Linked DNA regions of Homo sapiens: region 2 is linked to region 1. The links come from fine-mapping of genetic effects on gene expression. A gene starts in region 1. The other region holds a variant in brackets. All regions are shown on one strand. Distances are from middle to middle.

Region 1 (2,904 bases):
TCTTGCTCCGTTGCCCAGGCTGGAGTGCAGTGGTGCAATCTCAGCTTACTGCAACCTCTGCCTCCTGGATTCAAGCAATTCTCCCACCTCAGCCTCCCAAGTAGCTAGGATTACAGGCAAACACCACCACGCTCAGGTAATTTTTGTATTTTAGTAGAGATGGGGTTTCACCATGTTGGCCAGGCTGGTCTCGAACTCCTGACCTCAGGTGATCCGCCCACCTAGGACTCCCAAAGTGCTGGGATTACAAGTCTGAGCCACCACGCCTGGCCCAATGTTTTGTATTTTAGTAGAGACGAGGTTTCACTATGTTGCCCAGGCTGGTCTCGAATTCCTGAGCTCAGGCGATCTGCCCGTCTTGGCCTCCCCAAGTTCTAGGCTGTGCCAGGGTTCTGATCCAGTTCCTTCCACTTGGATCATTGCTCTGGCCTCCTGCCCTCCCCCTCAAAGAAGCCTAAGCTCCTTTCGCCTGGGTGCTGGGGGACCCTGGGGGATCATGAGAGCCCCGTGAAGGAATTCTGAGAGTGCCTGGGGAAACGACAGAAAGTTTGAGGTGCCCTACTCATTTGCAGGAACCCCACGAGGGTTCTGGGGGCCTCTGAGGGGTCATGGGAGTCCTAGGGAGGTTCTGAGGACCCCCAGGGGATCATGGGACCCTCACGAGGACTTCAGGGGTTCCTGAACAATCATGGGAACCCTATGGGACATTCTGAGAGCTAGAGAGATCATAGGAGCCCCGTGAGGGTATTGTGAGGGGCCATAAGTAATTACAGGAAGTCCTGATGTGGCTGGGTGCAGTAGCTCACGCCTGTAATCCCAGCACTTTGGGAAGTCGAGGTGGGTGGATCACTTGAGGCCAGGAGTTCGAGACCAGCCTGGCCAACATGCTGAAACCTTGTCTCTAGAAAAAGTACAAATATTAGCTGAGAGTGGTGGCGCGCGTCTCTGGTCCCAGTTACTTGGGGGGCTGAGGTGAGAGGATGGCTTGAGCCCAGGAGGTTGAGGCTGCAGTGGTGTGATAGCGCCAGTGCACTTCAGTTTGGGCGACAGAGTGAGACCCTGGCTCAAAAAAAAAAACAAAAAAAAAACCCAACCCAAACCGGAAGTCCTGATGTATTCTAGGCTCCTGAGAGTTCCGATGAGGTCACATGAACCCCACGAGTATTGAGGGGTCCTATGGGATCACGGGGGCTCCATGGAAGTTCTGAAGGTCTCTGGGTAATCAAAGGGATGAAGGGAGTCCCTCAGGAGGTCTGGGGTGCTCTGGAGGCCCATGGAAGCCATAGGATGTTTTGAAGAGTCGTGGAAAGACAATGGGGGTTGTGGGTCACTGGAGCCTCACAGGAATCCTAAGGGGTCTGGTGGGTGGCGTCAGGTTCTGAGGGGACCCTGAGGAATCACGAGAGCGTCTAGAGGAGTTCAGGAAAACCGCGGAAACACTACGAGGAGTTCAGGATCAAGGGGCAAGAGAACCAGTGGGGAAGACCGGAACAGACTAAAAGGCTGCCACCGCCAAGGCTCAAGGGAGCGTCCTACAGGGCGCGATCCTATTGGGCGGCGGGAATCACGGGGACTAAGAGAGGCGGAGCGGCTGAGCTACCGCAGTGGATGACGGGACTCCCCGCGAAAAACCGGGCGCCCAGGCCTGGGGAACGCAGCGAGCAGCGCCGGCCGGGCAGACTCTCACCAGTGCGCATGCGTGGCTCTCCGGCACCGGTCCGTACTCCAGCGAGGTGAAGATCTCGCGGGCGCGGGGCCCTGCACGCGTCGCAGCCATCGCCTACCCCGAACGCTTTCCGCGAAGACTGCGGGGCGCTCTGTGTTAAGGGGAACCTTGAGGTCCGAAGAGCGACACCTCCGGTTCCAGCCCAAAGGGGCGGGGCTAATGGGAATGGGGTGGGGCTACAAGATACAGAGAGCAGCCACGCCCACACTTTTTCCTTAGGACCCGATGGCCCCGCCTACGTCCCCCACGGGGAAGCGTATTTAGGAGCATGCGCACTGCTTAAAACGGGGAGGAAGGGGAGACGGCGATGTGGGTACTTTGCGAATAGTTAGGAGGGCTCCGGATTTATGAGGATCGGCGTGGCCGGGCACGATGGCTCTTGGCTGTAATCCCAGCACTTCGGGAGGCCGAGGCGGGCGGATCACCTAAGGTCGGGAGTTCGAGACCAGCCTGACCAATTTGGTGAAACCCCGTCTCTACTAAAAATACAAGCATTAGCCGAGCTGTGGTGGTGCGCGCCTGTAATCTCAGCTACTCAAGAGGCTGAGGCGGGAGAATCACTTGAACCCAGAAGGTGTACGTTTCAGTGAGCCGAGATCGCGCCACTGCACTCCAGCCTGGGTGGCAAAGGGAGACTGTGTCTAAAAAAAAAATAGTAATAAAAAAAAAGGGTCGTCCTATTGATGCGTCTTCCCAGTGCCTTGTTTTATAGTAGCAGGAAGTGCAGGTTTTGTTTTACCTTTTATTTTCTTGAGACAGGGTCTCCCTCTGTCGCCCAGGGCTGGAGTGCAGTGGTCCGATCACGGCTTACTGTCGCCTCGACTTTTCAGGTTTAAACATTACTCCTGCGTCAGCCTGCACAGTAGCTGGGACTACAGGCAGGTGCCATCAAGCCTGGCTAATTTTTTTTTTTTTTTTTTTTTTGGTAGAGACAGGATCTTGCTATGTTGCTCAGGCTGGTCTCGAACTCCTGGGCTCAAGCGATCCTCCTACCTCGGCCTCCCAGCCTCAAAGTGCAGCTTTTCTAATTATATTGACTAGAGGTCTAGATCTAGATCTAGACCTGGCGGGTCTAGATCTGGACGTATTAGGATCTAGAGCTGGCAGGAAGTGATAATTCAAAGATAAAAAGGGTACCTTTTAGGATGGACATTGAGATTAAGGTTTGGAAAATGCAA
Region 2 (2,904 bases), 34 kb before region 1:
GTAGTCAAAAGCCCATGCTAGCTCTGCTATAGAGCACTCTGCTTTCCCCGGTAAACTGCTCAGGCACCGAACCTCAGCTTCCTCCGGAGTAGAAATCCTGGCCGGGCACAGGGGCTCACGCCTGTAATCCCAGCACTTTGAGAGGCCTAGGTGGGCAGATCAGTTGAGGTCAGGAGTTCGAGACCATCCTGGCCAATATGGTGAAACCCTGTCTCTACTAAAAACACAAAAATTAGCCAAGCGTCGTGGCAGGCACCTGCAGTCCCAGGTACTCGGGAAGCTGAGGCAGGAGAATCACTTGAACTTGGGAAGCAGAGGTTGCAATGAGCCAAGATCGCACCATTGCACTCCAGCCTGGGTGTCACAGCGAGACTCCGTCTCAGAAAAAACACTAAAAGTAGAAATCCTCATTGTTTTAATGCAAAAGCATGAAGCACACACTGGTTGTTACACATGCTTTGTAAGCGTTGGTACAAAGACTCTAAAATCCAGACAGACTTCCTGAAGTCGTGACCTTGGCCCAAAATCACCAATTCCAATTTAATTTCCTCCTCTGTAAAACAAGGATACCAGTAACTGCCTCAGGAATATGGTTAACTGAACTACGCAAAACATTGCGAACTGTGCTAGGCACAAAGACACATGCTTGGTGAACACAACTTGCCTAGATCGGCCTGGCTCTGAAATGTCACCCGCCCCAACAACAGACTACTCACAAAGAAACCTTTCCAGGGCCAATCCCTCCTTTATACTTAAGTAGCTACACCAGGAGCCAGGGAAAGGGCCCCCAGGTGTCAGGCCCAAAAGATGTCCCATCCTTGTGGAACCATTCATCACAGCTCTCGACTTCCAGTAACACGCCTCAGGACAATCGCCAATCCCCAAAACGACGGAAAACGAGTTCATTCCAGAGTGCCCCGCAGCCAACAGCTCTCGACCCCCCGCAGAAAGGCATTGAGAATTAAAAGAACCGGAGCTGCAGGGGACCCCGATTAACACCTCCACGTGAAATCAAAGTAGCCCGCGCACTGAGCGGGATAAAAATACCTTCCATTTTGGCCAAAACTCAGTTTCTCATTGCCCCGAGACCGCCCGGCCACACTTCCGCGTGTTCCTCATCGCTGAGGACACACAAGGGTCCAATTCGGCCAAGACTCTACCCCAGGGCCCCCACCCACTACCCGAGTTCAAGGTAAGCAAAATCTAGTTGCAAAATACCTGTCCTGTGCTGGAAGCTCTATCACCCTCGCCTCGAGAAGGAAATGCCACATTGTAGCCAACCCTAGGCCTAAAGAGAGCCGCGGCATTTCCTACAGATTCCCCTTATCCCAAAAGACTTCCATTTTGCTTCATTATGGATGTTAAGCTC[C/A]GCAAAACATGCAAGACAGAGAGGGTGCGACCCCATTCCGGCCTGGATCCCACCCGGCCCCTTGCCGCCCCGGCCCGCGCGGAGCCCATACCTGCACCTCCGCCATCTTCGGCAGCCGCTTGGAAAAGGAGGAGGTTTTGTCGCAGGGTTTCTTATCCCTTGAAACAGGGGCGGCAGAAGTGACGCAACGCGGTTGCGCGGACGGCTTCCTGTGTTTTCATTGGTCGAAGCGTTCTGCGCGTGCGCAGAGATTCCCCAGGGAAGGCGGGCCCTCTTCCGAATGTCCAATCCGGACATTCTTCCGGTTGGACCTCCGCGGTCAGCGCTGTGCCCGGCGAGAGATCACGTGGGGCGCGGAGGCGGTGCTGCTGGGGCACGGCCGTCCAGCCTCGGCGGCCATATTTTTGAGGGGCTGTTCATCTCGTTCACACGCTCTGTCCGCCATGTTTGTGAGTGGAAGCGCCATTACCCCTTCAAGCGACTGAAGGCTGCAGGGCCTCTGGTGGCCCGCATGGGGAGACCAGACCCGCCAGGCCCGCCTTTCCGCACTCAGTCCGGGCTTACTTTATTTTGTGAGACAGGGTCTCGCTGTGTTGTCCACACCAGAGTGCTGTGGGGCGATCATGGCTCACCGCAGCCTCCACTTCCTGGGCTCAAGGGATCCTCCTGCCTCAGCCTCTCGAGTAACTTGGACTACAGGGGCGCGCCACCATGCCTGGCTAATATATATATATATATATATTTTGTTGTGGCCCGGGAACGGGGGGAGTCTGACATGTTGGCCAGGCTGATCTCGAACTCCTGGGCTCAAGCGATCCTCCCGTTTCGGCCTCCCAAAGTGCTGGGATTACCGGCGTGAGCCCCGGAGCCTTGCCCATTCTAGGCTTAGAGATTTGGATTCCTGTGTCTGGTCGACTTCACTGTGACCTGGAGAAACCCTTGGCCTTATCTGGGCCTCAGTTTATCCATCTGTAAAACAGATGGAGGTGGTCTTCCCCAGGGGCTCTAAGAGTGGATCAAGGAATGGCTTCTAGTTGCCTGGCTGCACCAATCCACTGAGCGTTCCTCAGAGGAACTTCTCACTTTCTGGACTGTCGGCCTTTGCTTCAGCTGGGTCCCTTGCCCAGGATGCCCTCCCCACCCCCTCCAAATCTGGCTTGTCACCATCGCAATGCCATTTGGCTCTGGAAAGCCTCTCTGCTCTCCCTGCCTGGGTGAGTTGCCCCTCACACTGCCTCTGTTTTATCTCCATAGTAGCCTATGGCATCCTGCACCCAGGCTCGCTGAATCCCTTGTCTTCTCGTCCATAGCCAAGGAGACCTGGGGCACCTGGGCTGGTTCTGACTCAAATCCAGGCTCTGACATTGCCCAGCGCCGGCCCGGGGCTCCAGGGGACCTCAGAAAACACGTATTGAATGAAACATTGCATTGCAATTCAAAAACCAAGATTCTGAAATCAAAACTACCCCATTCACACCCATCCATAGACAGACCTGGCCAGAGCTGGTAGAAAAGGATGATTTATATACAATTTC

Evidence for each region. PIP is the estimated chance that this variant, and not a neighbour inherited with it, causes the effect.
Region 2: its variant is the best candidate, but not a certain one, in a credible set for the expression of ALDH16A1 in whole blood (GTEx, PIP 0.56).

The regions. Positions count from the first base shown.
Region 1 is chr19:49,452,205-49,455,108 of GRCh38, reverse strand. ALDH16A1 (aldehyde dehydrogenase 16 family member A1) reads right to left here and starts at 1,884. Exons shown (of 17, transcript NM_153329.4): 1 at 1,688-1,884. The coding sequence starts at 1,777. RefSeq lists an enhancer at 332-1,291.
Region 2 is chr19:49,486,201-49,489,104 of GRCh38, reverse strand. It overlaps RPL13A (ribosomal protein L13a), which reads right to left and starts at 1,497. Exons shown (of 8, transcript NM_012423.4): 1 at 1,461-1,497. The coding sequence starts at 1,475. FLT3LG (fms related receptor tyrosine kinase 3 ligand) reads right to left here. Exons shown (of 9, transcript NM_001459.4): 9 at 2,874-2,904. RefSeq lists enhancers at 917-1,521, 1,430-1,549, 1,610-2,109. The variant C/A (reference allele first, on the strand shown) is at 1,370.